Linked DNA regions of Homo sapiens. The protein of the gene in region 2 purifies or fractionates together with the protein of the main gene of each other region. This does not show direct contact. Each region holds a gene or a part of one and is shown on either strand. Other genes may lie near its edges.

Region 1 (7,038 bases), on a different chromosome or scaffold from region 2:
CCACCACGTCCAGCTCATCTTTTGACTCTTAAGGGTCCAGTGCTCTTTTCATAATAACATTTGATGTGGTGGATGTTATATAATACCAAAATGAAATTAAATTACACTTTGAGGCAATGCTTGCTAGAATCTACATGACCATATCTTTACATTGTGAATGTTATGCAGGAGCCTTCACTTTGTGCCTTGGGTATAGTAGGTGTTAAGTGCTGCACTTTAGATGTTGATGTGCTGGGCCCAGGAGTAATAATAATTATAGTAAAGTTGCAACATTATTTGGCAATTTGATGTTGAATAGATTGTTTCTTCTGAACGTTACATTTTAACACATTTGTTCTTAAAATTACATCATTGTAAGAGAAAGTACTTTCAGTTTAAATCAGTAAAGATCGGTCAGGTGCAGTGGCTCATGCCTCTAATCTCAGCACTTTGGGAGGCCCAGGCAGGAGGCCTGAGGCCAGGAGTTTGAGACCAGCCTGGGCAGCATAGTGAAACCCCATCTCTATAAAAAATTAATTAAAAGAATTAGCCAGGCGGCCAGGTGCAGTGGCTCATACCTGTAATCCCAGCACTTTGGGAGGCCAAGGTGGGCAGATCACCTGAGGTTGGGAGTTCGAGACCAGCCTGACCAATGTGGAGAAACCCTGTCTCTACTAAAAATACAAAATTAGCTGGGCAGCTGGGCGTGGTGGTGCATGCCTATAATCCCAGCTCTTTGGGAGGCTGAGGCAGGAGAATCACTTGAACCTGGGAGGCAGAGGTTGTGGTGAGCTGAGATCGTGCCACTGCACTTCAGCCTGGGCAACAAGAGAGAAACTCCGTCTCAAAAAAAAAAAAAAAGCCAGGCATGGTGGTACCCACCTGTAGTCCCAGCTGCTCCAGAGGTTGGGGCAGGAGGATTGCTTTAGTGCAGGAGGTTGAGGCTGCAGTGAGCCATGATCTTACCACTGCACTTCCAGACTGGGCAATGGAGCAAGACTCTGTCTCTAAATAAACAATAAATAAATAGGATGGGCACGTGGCTCACACCTGTAATCCCAGCACTTTGGGAGGCCGACTCCGGTGGATCACCTGAGGTCAGGAGTTTGGGACCAGCCTGGCCAACATGGTGAAACCCCATCTCTACTAAAAATACAAAATTAGCCAGGCATGGTGGCCCATGCCTGTGATCCCAGCTACTCGGGAGGCTGAGGCAGGAGAATCGCTTGAACTTGGGAGGTGGAGGTTGCAGTGAGCCGAGATCACGGCATTGCACTCCAGCCTGGCAACAAGAGTGAAATTCCATCTCCAAAAATAAATACATAAATAAAGATTTATGACCTTCTACTGTGCCTCTGTTCTGTGGTAGTTTCTGTAAAGAGATTCTTTTCAAAGTCAAATAGGTTTGTTTATTACCTTGAGTTTGAAAAAAGGAATTAACAGTTTGGTTTGTTTTTATAATTGTGTTCTGTAAATCTAGGTTCAGATACAAGCCTACGTTTGTGTTTATAGTGATATCTTTAAAAATTGGAGGAATAAGATGAGCCGATGGCTGAATTATTGGAGGAGTCTTAAGTCATTTCATACTTTTCAGAAGCCTAACATGCTTGTGTTTCTGCTGTTAATTCTAGTCAGGCATCTTTTAATATTTTCTTTTTTCTCTCTTTTTTTTTTTTTTTTTTTGAGACAGGATCTCACTCTGTCACACAGGTTGGAGTGCAGTGGTCCAATCTCAATCTCGGCTCACTGCAACACCTGCCTCCCAGGCTCAAATGATCCTCCCACTTCAGCTTCCCAAGTAGCTGGAACCATAGGCACAAGCCACCACCCCTGGCTAATTTTTTGTATTTTTGGTAGAGATGGGGTCTCGCCATGTTGCCCAGGCTGGTCTCGAACTCCTGAGCTCATGTGATCCACACACCTCAGCCTCCCAAAGTGCTGGGATTACAGATGTGAGCCACCTCACCCAGCCTAATATTTTCAAAGAATAAAAATTCACACATCAGAAGTCCACTTGGTAAACTCTTACTTCTTCAGAGTCAGCTCAAGCATCACTTTCTATAAAAACTTCTCTGTGTTTTCAATGAAAACTAGGTGTTCCTTTTATTGTATGCCCACTGTATCTTGGATATTTTTCTGCTGTGGCACTAATGACATATATTGTGATTTACTGAATTTGTCTTCTCCACTTAATTGTGAATAACTCAAGGGCAAAGCCCCTGCATTCCTATCCTCCCACTTTTACCAAGGATAGAACTGAGAATACATATTGGTAGACATAATGTTTATCTGCAGCTAAGCTTTTCTTACTGTGATTGCTAGAGTTAGGAATTATGCATTTGACATAGTGGGTATCAGTAACCTAAATAAAAATAGGCTAGTAGTATGTGTGCTTTGATTTTTGTTACATTGTTTTTTTTCTGTTAATTGTTTTTTCTGTACTTGCAGTTTGTAAAAATGGAATTTCAAGCAGTAGTGATGGCAGTAGGTGGAGGATCTCGGATGACAGACCTAACTTCCAGCATTCCCAAACCTCTGCTTCCAGTTGGGAACAAACCTTTAATTTGGTACCCATTGAACCTGCTTGAGCGTGTTGGATTTGAAGGTGAGCTATGACAAAGTGAGCTGTGAACTCATAAAACTTTTAGGAGATTTGATCCCCATGATTTGTCAGCGTTATGAGAATGAGAGAGGGTGACTAGAACTCGTTGGCTGAAGACTGCCTTCTTTAAGGAATGTAGGAGTACTCTATTGCTGTGTGAAAAAGGTTGAGAGGATAGCACTAAGTGTTGTTGTTATGGAGCTGATGTCCACAATGATCCAAGACGAACTCTGTAAAGATATCAGAAAGAGCAGATTGAGACTCTTAAATGCCTCATAGTCAGTACTTACTGAGAATCTATTATGTACCAGGTAATATTTATATTATCTGATATTCAATATATATATGTTTTAAATTTTGTTTTGATGTAAGTACCAGGTTATATATTAAACACGGAGGTACAGAATTGAAAAGACAGCTCAGGCCCTGACTTCCAGAACTTTAAAGTCTAGTGATCCTCTCTACTTTTTGCTTGGGTAGCTAGGTAGATAGTTATGCCATTAAGTAGGAAAAGGAATAGGAGACAAGGAACAGGTGTTTTTTTTTTGAGACAGAGTCTCACGCTGCCACCCAGGCTGGAGTGCAGTGGCACGATCTTGGCTCACTACAACCTCCGCCAGGGTTCAACCTCTCCCGGGTTCAAGTGATTCTCCTGCCTCAGCTTCCTGTGTAGCTGGGACTACAGGCATTTTCCACCATGCCCGGCTAAGTTTTTGTATTTTTAGTAGAGACAGGGTTTCACCATGTTAGCTAGAATGGTCTCGATCTCAGGACCTCGTGATCTGCCCACCTCGGCCTCCCAAAGTGCTGGGATTACAGGCATGAGCCACCGTGCCTGGCCAGGAAAAGGTTTTAATGAATTTTATTTTCATTAAAATAATGAGTTCAGCTTTGGTCACATTGAGTTTGAGGTGTCCTATATTTAGATGTAATAAATCAGGGTGCCAAAGCCTGAGGCCCAGTCTTGTGATCCAGTGTTCATTCCATTATTAGAGTTGCCTCCAATAGGAAGGGTGGTAGCTTAATAGCTCTCTCTTTGTATTGAATGAAGATTTAAAATGTTGGAGTCTCACCCTGTCGCCCAGGCTGGAGTACAGTGGTGTGATCTCAGCTCACTGCAACCTCCACCTCCCAGGTTTAAGCAATTCTCCTGCTTCAGTCTCCCGAGTACCTGGGACTACAGGCGTGTACCACCACTCCCGGCTAATTTTTTTGTATTTTTAATAGAGACAGGGTTTCGCCATGTTGTCCAGGCTGGTCTTGAACTTCTGACCTCAAGTGATCTGCCTGTCTCGGCCTTCCAAAGTGTTGGAATTACAGGTGTGAGCCACTACGCATGGCCCCCTTTGGTTTTTTTGTTTTTTAGAGACAGAGTCTTGCTCTGTCGTCCAAGGCTGGAGTACAGTGGCATGATTTCAGCTCATTGCAACCTCTGCCTCCTGGGATCAAACGATCCTCCCATCTTAGCCTCCTGAGTAGCTGCAACTACATGCATGCCACCACACCTGGATAATTTTTCTTTCCTCCTTTTTTTTTTTTTTTTTTTTTTGGCAGAGACAGGGTTTCGCCACGTTACCCAGGCTGGTCTTGAGTTCCTGGGCTGAAGTTATCTGCCTGCCTTGGCTTCCCAGAGTGTTTTTTATATTTCTTCCCATTTGTATTTTTGATTAATGTTCTTCTGAATTCTTCATATCAAGGAGAAGTGGCATATAATATATTAAAGTGTGGGCACCATTCATATAGACCTGAGGTTTTTTTTTGTTTGTTTGTTTGTTTTGAGACAGACTCACTCTGTTACCCAGGCTGGAGTGCAGTGGGGTGATCTTGGCCCACTGCAACCTCCACCTCCCAGACTCAAGCAATCCTCCCACCTAAACCTCTGGTTTTTTGGAGTTTTTTTATAGAGACAAGGTTTTGCCATGTTGCCCAGGCTGGTCTTGAACTCCAGGGCTCAAGTGATCCGCCTGCCTCGGCCTCCCAAAGTGCTGGGATTTACAGGCATGAGCCACTGCGCCCAGCCAGCATGTCTTTTAATCCAAGATTCCTCATTTGTAAGATGAGATTGTTCTAAGAATTAATTGGGGGGAGGCCAGATGCAGTGGTTCACGTCTGTAATCACAACACTTGGGGAGGCCAAGGCTGGCGGATCCTTTGAGCCCAGGAGTTGGAGACCAGCCTGGGCAACAGAGCGAAACCTCATCTCTACAGAAAATACAAAAATTAGCCAAGCATGGTGGCACATGCCTGTAGTCTCAGCTACTTGGGAGGCTGAGGTGGGAGGATTGCCTGATCTTGGGAGGTTGAGGCTGCTGTGAACTGCGACAGTGCCACTGCACTCCAGCCTGAGTGGCAGAGTGAGACCCTGTCTGTAAAAAAAAAAAAAAAAAAAAAAAAAAAAAAAAGAATTTATTGGGGGAATGCAGGTAAAATATATTGAAAAGGCACAATAATATTAGCAGTTGTTATTACACCTAGAAATAGACCAAATCTAATTGAAATAATGGAACCACTGTCTATATGAGTAAGTTTTTGTTTTTCTTTCTTTTTTTCTTTTGTCCTATAGAAGTCATTGTGGTTACAACCAGGGATGTTCAAAAGGCTCTATGTGCAGAATTCAAGATGAAAATGAAGCCAGATATTGTGTGTATTCCTGATGACGCTGACATGGGAACTGCAGATTCTTTGCGCTACATATATCCAAAACTTAAGGTGAAAAGCAATTTTTTGACTCTTCTTGTTTATTGAAGATAGATGATATCTTATGTTTTCCCAGTGCATTATAGTCTTTTTTTTGAGACAGAACCTCGCTCTGTCACCTAGGCCGGAGTGCAGTAGTGTGATCTCAATTCACTGCAACCTCCACCTCCCGGGTTCAAGCAATTCTCCTGCCTCAGCCTCCCAAGTAGCTGGGATTACAGGCATACGCCACCGTGCCTGGCTAATTTTGTATTTTTAGTATAGATGGGATGTTGGCCAGGCTAGACTCGAACTCCTGACCTCAGGTGATCCACCCTCCTCGGCCTTCCAAAGTGCTGGGATTACAGGCGTGAGCCATCACGCCTGGCCCCCAGTGCATTATAGTTTACAAAACTTTATTTCTGATATATTTTTACATCACATACTTTGTTACCCATGTACTCTTCAGTTGCTCTTTGATTTGGTTACTAGTAAAGATTTAGACATTAATTTGTCATAGTCACTGGTTTCCAATGTTTTTGAGTAATAGCACATTTTTATTAAAAAAGAAAAAAAAGACATACTCTAGGCCAGGCACAGTGGCTTATGCCTGTAATCCCTTTGGGAGGCCAAGGCAGGTGGATCACTTGAGGTCAGGAGTTTGAGACCAGCCTGGTCAACGTGGTAAGACCCTGTCTCTACTAAAAAGACAAAAATTAGCTGGGCATGGCGGTGCACATCTGTAATCCTAGCTACTGGGGAGGCTGAGGCAGGAGAATCGCTTGAACCCAGGAGGTGGAGGTTGCAGTGAGCCGAGATCATGCCACTGCACTCCAGCCTGGGCAACAGAGTGAGATCCCATCTCAAAAAAAAAAAAAAGATATACTCTAAATGTACTTCAAAAGATTCCATTCATATGAAGTTTGTGAACAAGCAATGTTAATGTATAAATCAGAGGAGCAGTTGACTCTGCAGGTGAGGATTGACTAGAAAGAAGTACAAAGGAACGTTCAAAAATTCATAGACCTCCCATGTAATATTTGAACTTTTAGTTAACCTTTGGTTAAGAAACTAAGGAGCACATAGATATGAGAACATAGTCTCCCCAATGGTTTGTGGCCCATGAGCTGAGAAAGATCCACTGTAGATTGTTCTAAAATTGTTTTTCTTTGGAAAAAATTCAATCGTTGTGATGTTGCCATATTACTTGAAATGGGAGACAAACTTTCTTCTGTTATTTCTGGTGATTAAACGGATGTGTTATTTTCAACCGACTTTTGTACTATAAAACAAAAAATTAATGCAAATATGTACATGGCTTTCCCACCCCTTTTATTGAGGAATAATTTATACACAGTAAAATGCACAGATACTAAATATACACCTAGATTACCATTATCCAAATCTAGAACAATTCCATCACCCCTGAAAGTTCCTTTGTGCTTCTTTCTAGTAAGTCTCTGATCTTCTGAGTCAACCACTCTTCTGTTTCTATCACTATGTATTAATTTTATTTGCTTATAAACTTCATATAAATGGAAACATACAATTTTGTTCTGGCTTCTTTTGTTCAACATATTTTTCAGATTCTTTCATGTTATTGAAAGTATAACTAATCTGTTCCTTTTCATGCTTAGTAGTATTCCATTGAATGAATATACTACTATTTATTTATCTATCCTCCTATTGACAGTTATTTGGGTTGTTTCTAATTTTTGGCTATCATGCATAAAGCTATTATGAGCATTGTTCTGCAGGTCTTTTTGTGAAAATATTCTATA
Region 2 (7,038 bases):
CTTAGCAAACAAAGAGACAGACTGTTTCCTTTACTAATCATGTCTTTATAATCCGATGCCTATTTTAGCTGTTTTTTGACCATCTGTCTGTGTTTTGTTTACCTACAATCTAGCACTCTTATTGCCACTGTTGTATCATGATTCCACAAAAAAAAAAAAAGATATTGAAGCATTAAAATAGAAACAACATAATCATTCAGGTTATTGGGCCATGTTAAAAGTTGAGCCACCTAGCCAAAATGCACTTAAGTACACGGTGGGTCACAATTAAAATGGTTATGCATTTTTTTTAAGAGGGGGAATTGCTTTTTTACTCTACTAGCTAAAAAGGCATGAACTCAGATTTTTCAGGCTGAGATGTAAAAACCTATGGTGTTACTGCATTTACAAAATAGCATATACCTTGAATAACAGTAAGAGTCTGCTTTGTTACCTATATGGATCTAAATCAGTCTGTTGACACAAAATCTCTAATGGCAGAGTATCTATGATAGTCTACTCACACCTCTTTTTTTCTTCGCAAAAATATTAACCATACCATAATACCTTAATATTCATAATGAGGCTTAAGAATGCATCAGTAAGAAAACAGACTTAAAGAAATGTAATAGTTCTGTGGTGTTTGGAAAAAATAAAAAACACAGTTACTCACCATTAAAAAACCTCACCTCTAATCTCCCTTGCTTTCTATGAAGCTGAAATTACATTTCTTTTACTCCGTGTCCTATATTTAAACACAGAATCTCATAGATAATAATCATTCTACTGTAAGTTAAAATAAATGTAGTCTGCACACCAGTGAAGGTCAAATATAATAGAAACTAGAAGATCTTATTTTTTATCTCAAAATGCTACCCAATTTCTAAGAAATTTCTACTCAGCTAGCCTGAGGCTTTGATAAAGAATAAAAGTTTCCCACTTTGTAATTACAAACTTGTGATTGCTTAACAATGCATTTTCACTTACAAATCATGCTCTGGAAAGAAAAACAATGCACAAGAGCTTTTAGCAACTGGAAAGTTATTTGATTACAACTCTTTTGCAAAAATGAACTCCATATTTAACTGCAATCAGCAACCTTTTAAAAGCCTCTTTTGTGCTTAAAACCAGGCTTCCCAGAGCCTGCATCAGTCATAATTGGGTTTCTGAAGTCTACATAGCTCAGTTCATTTGCCTTCTGTGTTCAGATTCATAAGAGAATCAGAGTTTTATTAAAAATAAATAGGAAGAGGGAGAAATCCCAATATGCAGCATTGTGAACAAATCGATCTTTTCCAAAATGTCCACTGATATTTATGTATGCTGTATTCTGTCATTTATTTCAGCTGCTGGTAGGGATCATTCAGGCTGCCGAACTGCCCGCCTTGGACATGGGGGGCACATCTGATCCTTACGTGAAAGTGTTTCTGCTACCTGATAAGAAGAAGAAATTTGAGACAAAAGTCCACCGAAAAACCCTTAATCCTGTCTTCAATGAGCAATTTACTTTCAAGGTATTTGTTAACATTTATTTATAACCTTTCCTTTGTTGTTTTACTTAAAAGACTGATCTCATCCTGACACATACATAGACATGCACATGAATGCTTGTTCAGGCACTCACAATAATTCCAGTCAGAATATGCAAAATTCTTATCTTCACTACAGTCAACATTCGATATTGCCTTTCAGCGTGTTCAGAGTAGGATTCGGTTCAGTCATTTCAGAATGGAATGGACTAGAACATGACTAGGATGTCATAGTCACATCTAAAAAGTGAGATCCCTCCCTGAAATAAAGCCAAAGGAATGAAATCATTATTTTTCTGAATTTCAAAGTTTGTGAAAATAAGTACATCTGTTACAATCCCAGGATTAAGTAAGCTGTGTCCCAATGCTTAAATGGTACAAATAGACATGACTCTTGTAACAAAATTGTGTGTGTAGAGGGCAATTTGAGCACTTCAAAGTCATTCTTCTTAACTAATCAATAAAAGGAATATGAACATATTTTTTATTGCATTTCTAGCCTTCTTCCTTTACTCTAGGTTCTGCCCTGATGTTCTTCATCTTGTTGAGGCACCTCAGTTGACAAACAACAGAGAGATTCCAGCCATATAATATCTCATCAGGAAAACATGTCCTGCAGGTCTCCAGGATCTTCGTGGATCTTGGCTTGAAATCATTCATTAAAAACAATTCTTTTGGTGGATATCTTTAACGTGCGAAAAAAACTTTTTAATGCATTACTTAGAACAATATGTTTCTGAAAAATGAAATATCTGTGAATATGCCAGCAGGCTAATTCAAAATCACCACGTCCATCAGCCAGGCTTAGCATATGCCTTGTGTTGGCAAACATTCTGGGATGAAATAAATTGAAAATGAGGGCATGAGTCATTTTCTCAAACCTTGTTTTCAATTATGTAAAGGGGAAGTGTCTTTCTATTCACTCTAAAATTTCTGAGTTTTCAAGACAAAGGTCCCTCATGTATTGTCAGTAATCTTATTTAAAATCTGGTTTTTCTGTACCTAAGCAGTGAATTTAAAGTAGCAGTAAAGACATTCTGGAAATACTCAGTTCATGAAGAGTATCTGCTCATGAAGCTTAATCACTATAGTCAACATACTACGAAACGTAAAATGGAAATAAAATTTTAAAAATATTGTAATAGTAATCACAGTTGTTTTATTCATCTATTTATTAACCTTAACTTAGGTCAGCAGTTTCTGACCAAAACTTAGTAAGGAAATTCTTAAATTATATGAGCTAATGTATTGGGGCTTTGTTTTGTATTGCATTACCTACATTATTATTTCTTTAAAAAATGCTAATAATTTTATTAGTAATTTCTATAAAACCAAGTATAATTATTGAAATTTTTGAATTCTCTATACATTTTTATCAAGTTTCATTTTATTTCAGAAAGGTTGATCAAACTATACATAAATCCAAAGTATAATATATTCTGCTATATTAAAAAATACTTCAATTTTTCTAGAGAACTGGTTAGACATTGTAGATTACTCATCTTGAAATGCCAAGAGGCAATATGATACAGGAATGGAAGTATAAAAGACTTTAAAGAAGCCTGGCTTTACAATGGATTTAAATCACTTAACAGGAACTCAACATGCCCCAAATTAATTCATCTTCTTTTCCCCCAAAACAGTTATCTGAAGGAGCTACTAATCATTCAAACAATAAATATTTTTAAGTGCTTCTTCTGTGCTAGGTGTTTTACATATATTCATTCATCCCTAAAATAGCCCCATGAAGCAGCCATTATTACAGTATTATCACAATTTAATAGATGAATAAACTTATGTTTAATCACGTGCCCCAGGCCCTTTAGTTGGAAAGTCCAAATCTGGTACAAGGTCTGTCTGACCCCAAGTCCAGGTTTTTGACTGTTGCTCTTTGAGTACAATCACTAGAAAGTCTAGAGAGATTTTAGATATACAATAACATTTTCAAGGGTTTATCCTTACTCTAAAAAATTTTGTTTCTTTCTTTGAGAGTCAGCTCTTTGGAAGGGTTTATTTTCCATTCCTTCTAAAATGGAAAAAGGATGATGCTTACTTTTTAATCATATCATTTTAATAAAATAATCAGGTTCCAAACAGATGGTAAATAAATGACAGAAAAGAAAAACTCTTTGGAAAACTAAAATTTCTTGTATGTAGATGGCCCAATATTCTTCCTTTTCTTCCCTCCTTAATATACAGAGTTAATTGAGAAATGTTTGCTGAAGCATAAGACAACCATTTACACTGATAAAATAATAGGAAGTGTATGAAAATTGATCAAACCTTTAAGACAAGTCTAAACAATTTCTTAATTAGGTATTTCTACCCAGTTACTGAAGTGTAGCTTACTTGGATTGCACTGCTTTCACTGAATATTAAAAATGTCACTAATAAACATCCCAACCCATAGCATCTGTCCCAGATATATTTGAACAGCTGGAGAATTCATCAGTTCTTGGCCTTTTGCCACCACTCATCCTAAGGCATGTCATACCCAAGAATGAACTTCAAAACCCATATTATAATGCACCTCTTATATTCAAAACATCAATTTCCTAGTCAGTTCTTGTCAATCAGCAAATTATTTTAGGGAGTAGGTGAGGCACTTGTGAATATCATTTCAATCCTTTCAGACTCCTAGCATAGCCTTTAATAAATCATTGCTCCATTGAACTGTGGCATTTAAATGCCTTGAAAGAGTTAATGGAGCATTTGAAATAAGTTATTTGCCCCTCAGTAAGTTACACCCTGACAATACAACTTAAAACAACAATAACAACAAAATATTCTACAAGAAAAACTTACTTATAGTCAAATGCAATTGGCTTGTTTATTGTTTTATTAATCTTAAGGCTTTATAGTATAACTAACAGCAGGATCCATTATTAATAATGCTAACAGCTTCTAGAACTTTGAGATAAGGCAATAAATCACTAAAATTTCCCATTTTCTCTCAAGTAATTTTAGCCTCAAGCAGTTTGTCAAAAGTCTGAATTTAAAAAATAACCAAAAACAAAATTATCTCCCTGTTCTGTTTATGCAACGTAAATATTAAATTAAGCACCATGAACAAGTAACATGTTTTAAGCATTTTTGTGACTGGATATTTTATCCTCATGTCTTTTAATTTAGGTACCATACTCGGAATTGGGTGGCAAAACCCTAGTGATGGCTGTATATGATTTTGATCGTTTCTCTAAGCATGACATCATTGGAGAATTTAAAGTCCCTATGAACACAGTGGATTTTGGCCATGTAACTGAGGAATGGCGTGACCTGCAAAGTGCTGAGAAGGAAGAGGTAAGGGAATTACTAGCATTTCTAACATCACAAGCTGTACTCGCCAGTTGCTGCTCATATAATAACTTATTGAGAAATACTCTTTACAAAGGGGGATGTGGGCCTCTAGTTGTTGACAGCTGATAAAATAGGGTCAAGGGCACTGCACCACCTCGTTAAAAAGTGTACAGGTCTTCTGGGTGTTATCTGAAAGAAGAGAGACATTTGTGTACTGGATCTAGAAACAGCAACCCTGGACACAAACAAACACACATGCCCACAGGAACTCTTTCTAAAAGCTTACAAAAGGCCACACACACTCATAAACTACTGCTTTAAAATGACAACGAAAAATTATTTTATTTCTCATTTTTCCACAATCATTTTGTGTTTTCTGCATAGGTTATGTAGCTATTACACAGAAATAAAATGGTACTTTTTCCTTGATTGTTTCTGCATATCACAGACAGTTCATTGTTTCTCCTAAAGATACGAGAGCATGATTGGTCAAACATCAAATATAATTCACAAAGCCTGATATTAAATCCATTTTTTAAATGACTCACATTTTTATGCTACTCCTCACATTGTTTATTCCCAGTTTTAATAGTTTAGCCCAGTATTTTTCCATGACTTGAAAAGGGAAGTTCAATATGTTTAGTGCATTTAAGCTTCATAATAATCAATTGTATCTGATTATGCGATGCCTGCCTGGCACCAGCATTTTTCTCTGCAAACATTTCAGTAGACCAATACTAGAAAAGCAAACAACCCTTAGCTTCTCCAAATTCCTAAAACAACTCCTTTCGCAGTCACTCTTTAGTTCCTGACGTAAGGCTGTAATTACGCAAGAGATTGCTGACAGCTCAGTCATTTAGGATCTCCAGGTCCCTAGGATTCCCTGGCCTCTTGGGGTCACCAGGGAGATCAGAGAGAACGTCAGGCCTTCAGAGAAACTCAATCAAGTCCATCACCTGGGAATCCTCTCAGCCTAAGGTTTTCTGTGACCAATCTGAGGCTATGAACTTTATACCCCCTATATGATGAAATGAGGTTTTAGAACAGGCCTATTAATTCCCATGCTGAAATTGAACTTTTCACTCTAACATTGCTGTTTGCTATTTGATTTTACAAAATGAGTCAAAAATACTTAAGTTAAACTCTGCTCTTTTTTTTGGAAAAAAGTATGTATACTTATACTTTCCAAAAAAGAGAGCAGAGCTTAAGTATTTTTGTATATAATATTCATGTATACTTATTATATATATATATATATATATATATATATATATATTTACTGTCTCAATATCTAAGAATGTTGACTAACCTTTCTTAGACATTGACACAGATTTAGCCCTACTGTGGATATTCAAGAATACCCAGGAAAAATACCGAGTTTTAAAATTATATGATTTTATGGATAGTTCTTTCCTATAAGTGAACTAATAGTAATGTTACAGACATCTTCATGAAAAAAAAAATTCGATCATTCAGTTACAATGTTTATAATTATTTAACAAAGTAGTGGGATGTTTCATTGACTTTTTTGTTGAAGTGTTTGACTTTGTGTAAATTTTTTGGGTGATAAAGTAGGACCATAAGAAATGTTTATTAACTGATTGGTTTTATTAATTGACTGGTGTTTGGTTGGCTTGTTGGTTGAATATGAGAACATGAACCACTGGTACTTCACAATGCCCACTTGTGCAGGGTGCATGGTTCACACTTGTTACTTTCACCTGGATAATTATCAGGTGGTAATGACATCCAAGATCACACCCAGTGGGTTTCTGAAAAATTGTGCAATGTTTTTTTCTGAGCTAAGGGAATGTGGACCATTGAGCAAGTTTCCTCTTTCAGAAATCTTTGAGTACGAGCAGAGTTTGAAACTTAACACCAGGCTGACGGGTTTCACTCTAGAATCTAGGGGTTTAGGTAAACTGCCCATTCAGAATTTTAACCTAGAAAGTGGCCTAACATGATTTACCCCTTATCTTACTTACCGATGAAATAGAATAGAACATGAAGTACCCAGCATAGAGTCTGGCATATGGTAAATGTTCACTAAGTGAGAGGTCTCTCATACCTTTTTCTTGGTTAATTTTGTGTGTGTGTTCTCTTTCCCCATTTTGTGTGTTCATCTCCTCATTTGTTGTGTCTCTTCCCTCTATTTTTATCTACTTCGCTATCCTTTTTCTCACCATTGCACTTACTGAGTATCTGTAGGAGTTATTAATGGGAAATATTAATT
Region 3 (7,038 bases), on a different chromosome or scaffold from region 2:
TCAAGTAGCCACCTACTGCTGCCATCACTAAGAGCACTGAAAAAAATCAGAGGGTAGCTAAGTGAGCTAAGTCTAGTATTGGAACATACAAGAAAGGTAATAACGTTCAGGAATCCATAATAATTGACATTAGTAAAAATGCCATGTTTTATGGAGCTAGGATAACTAGAAGTTGGAATACACATGGGCCAGGAGCTTGAAACAAGTTCAGCCCAGAGGTAGCTCTGTGCACTGGAGCTGGACTAGCCACATCCATCCAGGCAAGGGCAGGGTCCTCGGTCCCACCTTAGGCTCACCAAATTAAAATTGCAGAAGGTTCTGGAGAGCTATTCAGGTGGTCCTGGCGTGTTAGCTAAGCTTGGGTCTCTTCATTTAGGACAAAGGTTTTTATAGCAAAGTCCTTAGAATTTGCGTGTCTCGTTTAGAGGTCCTTTTCCATAGGTTTGAAAATTCTTAACTGCTTTTAATTTATCCTCAACAAGTCCTGTAACTCTTAGCATTTAAGCATTTGTGCATCTCCTCTGTATGAAGCATTACACACATTTCAAAGGGGGAACAGAACAGTACACTAGTTAAAGAGACTTATTATAAAAGGGGATAAGCCAGGTTAACAGTGCGGAAGTAGAAAGCATTAACCGTTGAACACTTATCATTGCCAGTTACTGTGCCAAAGGTACAACTGAAGAGAAAGATATGGGCCTTAATTTAGTGTATTATGTGGGGGAGAAAGCGAACGTAATTCAGTGTCATAAATGCTAGACAGCATAAAGGCCCATGAAAGGGGTAGCTCCAGATGAACAAAAAATCTTCATCTGGTATCTAAGAAGTTCTTGAACCCAGACTTGTAGGAAATCTACTTACAGAGAGGAAGAATGGCCCATGCGGCAGAAGTCCCTTTTGGGGGAACACTGACCTCTGATACTGCTGTGGTCACATTGATCCCTACAGAGGAATAAAAGGAATCAGTTTAGAAGGATCTGTATTCAGACTTAGAAATTTACCCATCAGGTAAGGAGCCAAAACCTTTGCATCCAATATTGATGTTCAGTATCTACAACAATTGAACACCAGGAACAACTCTGGCTTAGAAGTATTTGAGTCACATGCTGTAGTAGCCATTTCACTGACAGTTCTCTACTAGAAACCTTTAAGATCAGTCAGGAAAAGATATGCAAGTTTTAAGTCTTTGGTGTTTAAATATAGGTTACCAATTGGGGCAGAAATAGTAGTTAAAGGCTGCATTAATTATTTAAGCTGTAGATACAAAGAGTGTGGCTGTTAGTTGAGATTAACAGTTTGCAGTACTGAACTCAATACCTCCAGGAACTAGTCCACTAGTTGCTGAAATTTCTGTTGTGTTCGTATCTTTTGTCTCACTGTAAGTCACAGTAGTTGCAGTACCTGAATTATAAAAACCAAGAACCTGGTTAATGCCAGGGTTCCAGCATGGCTAGCTGTTTTGTCCAGACAAGCCATGTAAAAGGTTATTTTAAAACCAGGTAAAATAGACAAACCACTGCTGAACTAAGTTGTACAGCTGATGTGTCAACATTGAAATAGCAATCTTCATGCAAAAAAGAGATACATGAAACTTTGGGAAGGACAGTCGGTGTTTGGAATTTGACAATTCAAAATGATGGACAACCACATTTTATCCCTCTAAACAACATCCCATGTTCCTGGAAACTACGAGAAATGTTCTCAAGATGCTCTGGTATACCAGGCATACCAGACTGTCTTGCAACTAATTTCTTGGTAAACTGAGCTAATCCCTGCCTGACCATGAATTACGCTAATAAAAACCTCATCAGCCTCACCATACAAGCTCCTTGATCACACAAATGACTTTAATTTGCCACTTAATCAAAAGTTAAGAACAGAAGACTAAATGCAAATTCAGCCTAAGTGTTATTTTAGGGTAGCGTCACCCACTGAGGCAATGAGGTTTCTGTAACCATGGCCTTCCTTAAGCATAATTTCTGTCCTCCTCCTTTTGAGGAAAAATGTTAAGGCCTCATTTAATTACCTGCAAGTTGGCTAGCTCAGTGCTGTTAAGGGACTAGGTACAAATTAGTGTAAGGTATGTTGACACTTTAGTCTCCTATAAACTCATTTAATGTTGAAATGGGTTAAAGTCAGTTCTAAAGAAATGACATGATAACCCGGCATACAATAGCAGATATCTTCTCAAATCTATTCAAAGAATTAGCTAAGACAGAATTCTTAAAAATCCAAGCTTGTGTCTTATTATATTGCTTGTTGTAGGTTCTACTTGTGGTTGAAACACAAAATGCCTTACTTTGACAGTCTCGGCCATTTTCCTCTACATTGTACCCACTGGGACAGGAACAGGTATATTTTGGAGAGTGATCATTAATCTGTGGTGCTGGCAGGCATAGGTATTCACATCCTCCATTCTCCATGTCTTCTTCACACCAATTTTTACCTAGTCAGGAAAAAAAATACCATTAAAATGGGTATTCCGGTGCCTAGTATATATAAAGCCTTGTTCTACATGTTGAAGACCTGAGTCCTTGCCCCCAAGAGCTTAAACTTGTCTACTCTGCTAATCCTTCAAGTGAGAACAGTATCAAGGAAGAATAAGTATACAGGTACAGGCAGCATGCTCTAAGGACACCAGATAAGGGACCTCTTCGAGATAGACTGTAAAAGTTATGCCTTTAAGAGACAGATGCCAAAAGAGGAGGTGGGGAAGGGAGGTGAGGGACCAGGACTGGCTCTCACTATTTGCCCGAGGTTTAGCGTGAAGGCTCAGAGAAAGGAGACTAGGCATGTTCTCCTGGTTTTCTCTTGACTTGCTCCAACAAAGTGGAAGGAAACTCAGCCTTAGGAAGGTTTGAAGGCTTTATTTAGATAGAACCAGCCAAGTGTTTTCAGCAGGAGATAATATAACCCGATGTGTTTGAGAATCTACACAATCCTATATCAGGTGTGTCACAGGGGGAAAGTAGGTGTTATGAGTTGAATGGTGTTCCTCCCTAAAATTCATATAATGAAGTCCTAGTACCTCAGAATGTGATCTTATTTGGAGATATTGAGGATAGGATATTTACAGAGGTAATCAAGTTAAAATGAGGTCATTAAGGTGGGCTCTAATCCAATATGACTGTTATTACAGCTCACGCCTGTAATTCCGGCACTTTAGGAGGCCGAGGCAGGCAGATTACTTTGGGTCAGGAGTTCGAGACCAGTCTGGCCAACATGGTGAAACCCCATCTCTACTAAAGATACAAAGTTTAGCTGGACGTGGTGGCTCACTCCTGTAGTCCCAGCTACTCGGGAGGCTGAGGCAGGAGAATTGCTTGAACACAGGAGGCGGAGGTTGCAGTGAGCCGAGATTGTGCCACTGCACTCCAGCCTGGGTGACAGAGCAAGAGTCAGTCTCCAAAAAACAGAAAAAGAAAGAAAGCAAGAAAGCTGGACACGAGCATATACAGAGGGACGATGATGTGAAGAGACAAAGGGGGAAGAGCACCATCAACAGACCAAGAAGAGGCCTGGAACAGACCCTTCCCTCACAGCCCTCAAGAGGCACCAACCCTCCTGGCACCTTGATTTCAAACTTCTGGCCTCCAGAGTTTTGAGACAATAAATTTCTGTTGTTTAAGATAGTCTGTGGTACTTCATTGCAAAAATCCTAGCAAACTAACAGTAGAGAAAGCTTGTAGCACAAAAGCTACTTTGGAGGCTACTGCAATAGTCTTGGCAAGAGGGGCTGAAGGCCAAGGGGACATGAATGAAACAGAAATAAAAGCTCTGACACTGAGGCTTGGGAGGAAAGCCAGGAGCTGAAGTTGAGAAGCCATTTCTCTGAGGCAGCAGAAATAAAAAAATAACATGTGAAATGTTTAAGGTAGGGTACAGGAGGGCAAAAGTTCCCTTTTAAAGAAAACTGAGTTGCCAAGAGCTACTGACATCCAGCAGGTTCTGTGTCATGCTGCTTCCCTTAAAGTAGTTATTAAGGACTGTGCTTCTCCACGGTACCTGATGGCTGTACAAGTTCATGATAGACAATGATGTCTTGGGCATCATTCAGGTTGTTGACTAGAGTGGCTAGCTCTGATCCAGTGAATTTATTGGCACCATAGACTGCTTCATTTTCCCCATCTATCCAGTAGACACGATCCTAAAACAGAAGCCCACAATTAGCATGTACATCCAGGATTAACACAAGTCCATTTCTAAGGTCATCATCATTTACTTCTCATTTAATGGACTAAGTTTACTGAATGCTGAACTGGGACACTGGATATAAAACTGTAAAAGAATCAAGTTTAGGTGTGGAGTGCTTCTGGGACTTAGTGTCTGATTTGTACCAGGTTTTAAGTGAAAGCAGTTTCTCAAGCCATGTTCAGCTGCTCTTCCCTCCTCCCGCTATGTCTGTTATTTCTTCTCAAAGTGATATAGTAGCTCAAAGGTACACACTTTGATGTGAGACACATCTTACCTCAAATATTGTTAGTGCAAGAGGATGAGCTAGGAACTCCAGAGACTTTAGTACTATCCTACGATCTTGGCCATTCAAGTCCACGCTGGATAACATGTGCAACTTAGAATCAAGCCAATAGAGGCGACTTTTTATAAGGTCTAGGTAGGAAAAGAATTGTCATTACATGACAAGCCACTACTACTCTGGCTTCCATTAAAAATATCTAATGAATTAATAATCTACTTTCACGGTTCTTTCCCCAGCAGGGTTTCTTAACGGGGTCACCATAAACCTTGCGAAGCAGCATGCAGAGCCTGTATCCACGTTCATTTTTGGGGACTAACAGGGTACCTGAGATTCTCAAAGCAAATGACTTAAGAAATATTACTCACATTACAGAAAATATTAAAAGAGGCTACCATTTTGTTGTTCTCCTCCAAAAAGCCAGAAGAAAACTGTTAAAAGCCTGCAATTCAGGAAATGCTAAGGCACTCATGCCCAGAATATTTAGTATGAGTGCACCCAAGACCCAACGTTCACTGAATTTGTGTCACATATTAGGCCCAGCTGGACAACAGGCCAGTAATTATGGAATGTGTAATTTGTTAATCCACCATTTTACTTGTGTTGTTCAGTTACTCCCATTGAAAATTCCTGCTAGAATTTAGGCGGAAGCAGTAGAGTCATCTGCTAGTCCAGAATTCACCATGGAGATAAATGGAAACACTATGAAGATAGTTGAGTGGGTGGTCGAGAAGGAAGAACATACATACCAAGTGTAATTCCGTTAGGCCACTGGATATCCGCTGTCACCAGTGGACGTCTATCGAATCCATTCATTCCTGCTTTTTCTATTTTAGCTGGTTCACCCCAGTCTGACCAGTAAACAAAGCTGTGAAAAATTAAATGAGAAATAAGCCTCAGTGGTTTAGAAGGAATAAAGTTGTAGTAGCTGGAAACAAAAATTTAAAATTTGAGCAGAAAACTCAAGGCATTCTCTAGTGACAAATAGTAACACTTAAGGGTCTAAATTATGTTCTAGGTAAATAAAATTGAATATTAAGAATCTACAAGCTCATTATTAACTATAATAATCTATGTTTGTCTGACATTTAAATTTCGGCCCAAAGTCACAAGGTTATGTTTCCTTTTTAAAAGGTCAGTTCTTACAGAGGAGTGCAAGACGAACATCCTTCAAATTTCATAGCAGGGGTTGGCTGGCTGACTGAGTTCTAATGAGGCTGCACGGGGGCCAGTTGTGATGACAACTACAGCCTTAGTCAACTTCCTGAGCTGCTCTTCTATGTTACTTAGTGGCAATTTACAGAACCCCCTTAGTGAAATGTTTCTAGAAAGGTCTGTTTATTTCTGCTGGACTTTCAGACAACTTGCACACTTAGATGCAATGTGGTTACCCAAATCCTCACAATTCAGGCTGTCGTTTAGGTTTGATCATCCAGAGCTAGCCCAGCAAAGCTTTCAGTCAAAAATTAAAAAATCACTTGCGTAGAAACTGGGTGGACAAAAGGGTTCAGATACAGCTTTTGGTACACACATCAAATCAGGAATGTTAATTCATTAATGTCAGCCAGCAATCAGTCATACGAGAGTCAGACAGGAGGACCTGTCATATAGATAAGGACATCCCAGGGTCACTCACCTGGGGCAAAACTGATATCTTAAATTAGAATTCTAATTCTTTGTTGCAGAAGGCTCATAAACCTTGAGATTTGAGTACTAATTCAGGTATGAGAAAGCTCCTGACCTACACAGATACCATTCCAAAGTCTGTGATGGAAAACAGACTACAAACCCAGACAGTGGGTCCACAGCTATGGAGGCAGGCTCTCGCAAGTCAGAGTTAAACAGGAACTTCCTCTTGGTTCCATCTAGGGTAGCTACTGAAATAGTCTTAGAAGCCGCATCAGTCCAGTAGATGGTCTTGTACACCCAATCAACAGCAATGGCTGCAGGATTATAGACATTGTCGATCATTTTAACATGTCTACCAACCTTGTCATCAATTGAGGCACTGAAACAGAATAGGTCACAAGAAATTTAAGAGTTTGACACAATTAGAGCTTGGAGAATGGACTTTTTGCTTACAAAATGGTCAATGACTTTGTTCAGAAAGAAATCCAGTTAACACCACAGCTCACCACTCAAATTATTTAACCATGCTGCTTACTGATCCTAAATTAATAATGCTGTAGATTATCTAGTTGCTGGTATGTATTCTATATACAAGAACAACAAATTTCTAAGTGAAGCTATTTGTTTCAGTATCCATCATCTGAGTTTCTATAGTTCCCATTAAGAAAAGGCTGTACTACCATTTCTATTTGTAGCAACAATGAACAGTTCTCAATTAACTGTAGAGAAAAGGGAGAAAATATAAAAAATATGAAAGATGTCATCTTTTACTTCATAGACAATTGTTAGTTTCTAATTAGGAAGTGATAACAGTTTAATAAAGAATTAGCATTAGATTTAATGTCCCCAGGTAATTCGATGCTAGATGGGGCTAGACACAAAAGAAACTCCTCCAAACTATCCCACAGATCACTTCCCAAGTGACAATGACTTAT

Evidence for each region. Proteins that work in one complex are often made in the same cells at the same time.
Region 1: the proteins of SYT1 (region 2) and EIF2B3 purify together in Homo sapiens (co-immunoprecipitation; 3 studies listed by BioGRID and IntAct, with this or other methods). This does not show direct contact.
Region 3: the proteins of SYT1 (region 2) and VLDLR purify together in Homo sapiens (co-immunoprecipitation; 3 studies listed by BioGRID and IntAct, with this or other methods). This does not show direct contact.

The regions. Positions count from the first base shown.
Region 1 is NC_000001.11:44,976,567-44,983,604, reverse strand, and holds part of EIF2B3 (translation initiation factor eIF2B subunit gamma), read left to right. Parts: intron 1-2,427; 5' UTR 2,428-2,436; coding exon 2,437-2,584; intron 2,585-5,144; coding exon 5,145-5,290; intron 5,291-7,038. UniProt on the Homo sapiens protein: Acts as a component of the translation initiation factor 2B (eIF2B) complex, which catalyzes the exchange of GDP for GTP on the eukaryotic initiation factor 2 (eIF2) complex gamma subunit.
Region 2 is NC_000012.12:79,294,744-79,301,781, forward strand, and holds part of SYT1 (synaptotagmin-1), read left to right. Parts: intron 1-1,325; coding exon 1,326-1,493; intron 1,494-4,640; coding exon 4,641-4,808; intron 4,809-7,038. UniProt on the Homo sapiens protein: Calcium sensor that participates in triggering neurotransmitter release at the synapse. May have a regulatory role in the membrane interactions during trafficking of synaptic vesicles at the active zone of the synapse.
Region 3 is NC_000009.12:2,645,778-2,652,815, reverse strand, and holds part of VLDLR (very low-density lipoprotein receptor isoform a precursor), read right to left. Parts: intron 6,483-7,038; coding exon 6,264-6,482; intron 5,343-6,263; coding exon 5,224-5,342; intron 4,609-5,223; coding exon 4,469-4,608; intron 4,148-4,468; coding exon 4,006-4,147; intron 3,633-4,005; exon of another isoform or gene 2,447-3,632; coding exon 2,300-2,446; exon of another isoform or gene 1,402-2,299; coding exon 1,318-1,401; exon of another isoform or gene 943-1,317; coding exon 862-942; exon of another isoform or gene 37-861; coding exon 1-36. UniProt on the Homo sapiens protein: Multifunctional cell surface receptor that binds VLDL and transports it into cells by endocytosis and therefore plays an important role in energy metabolism.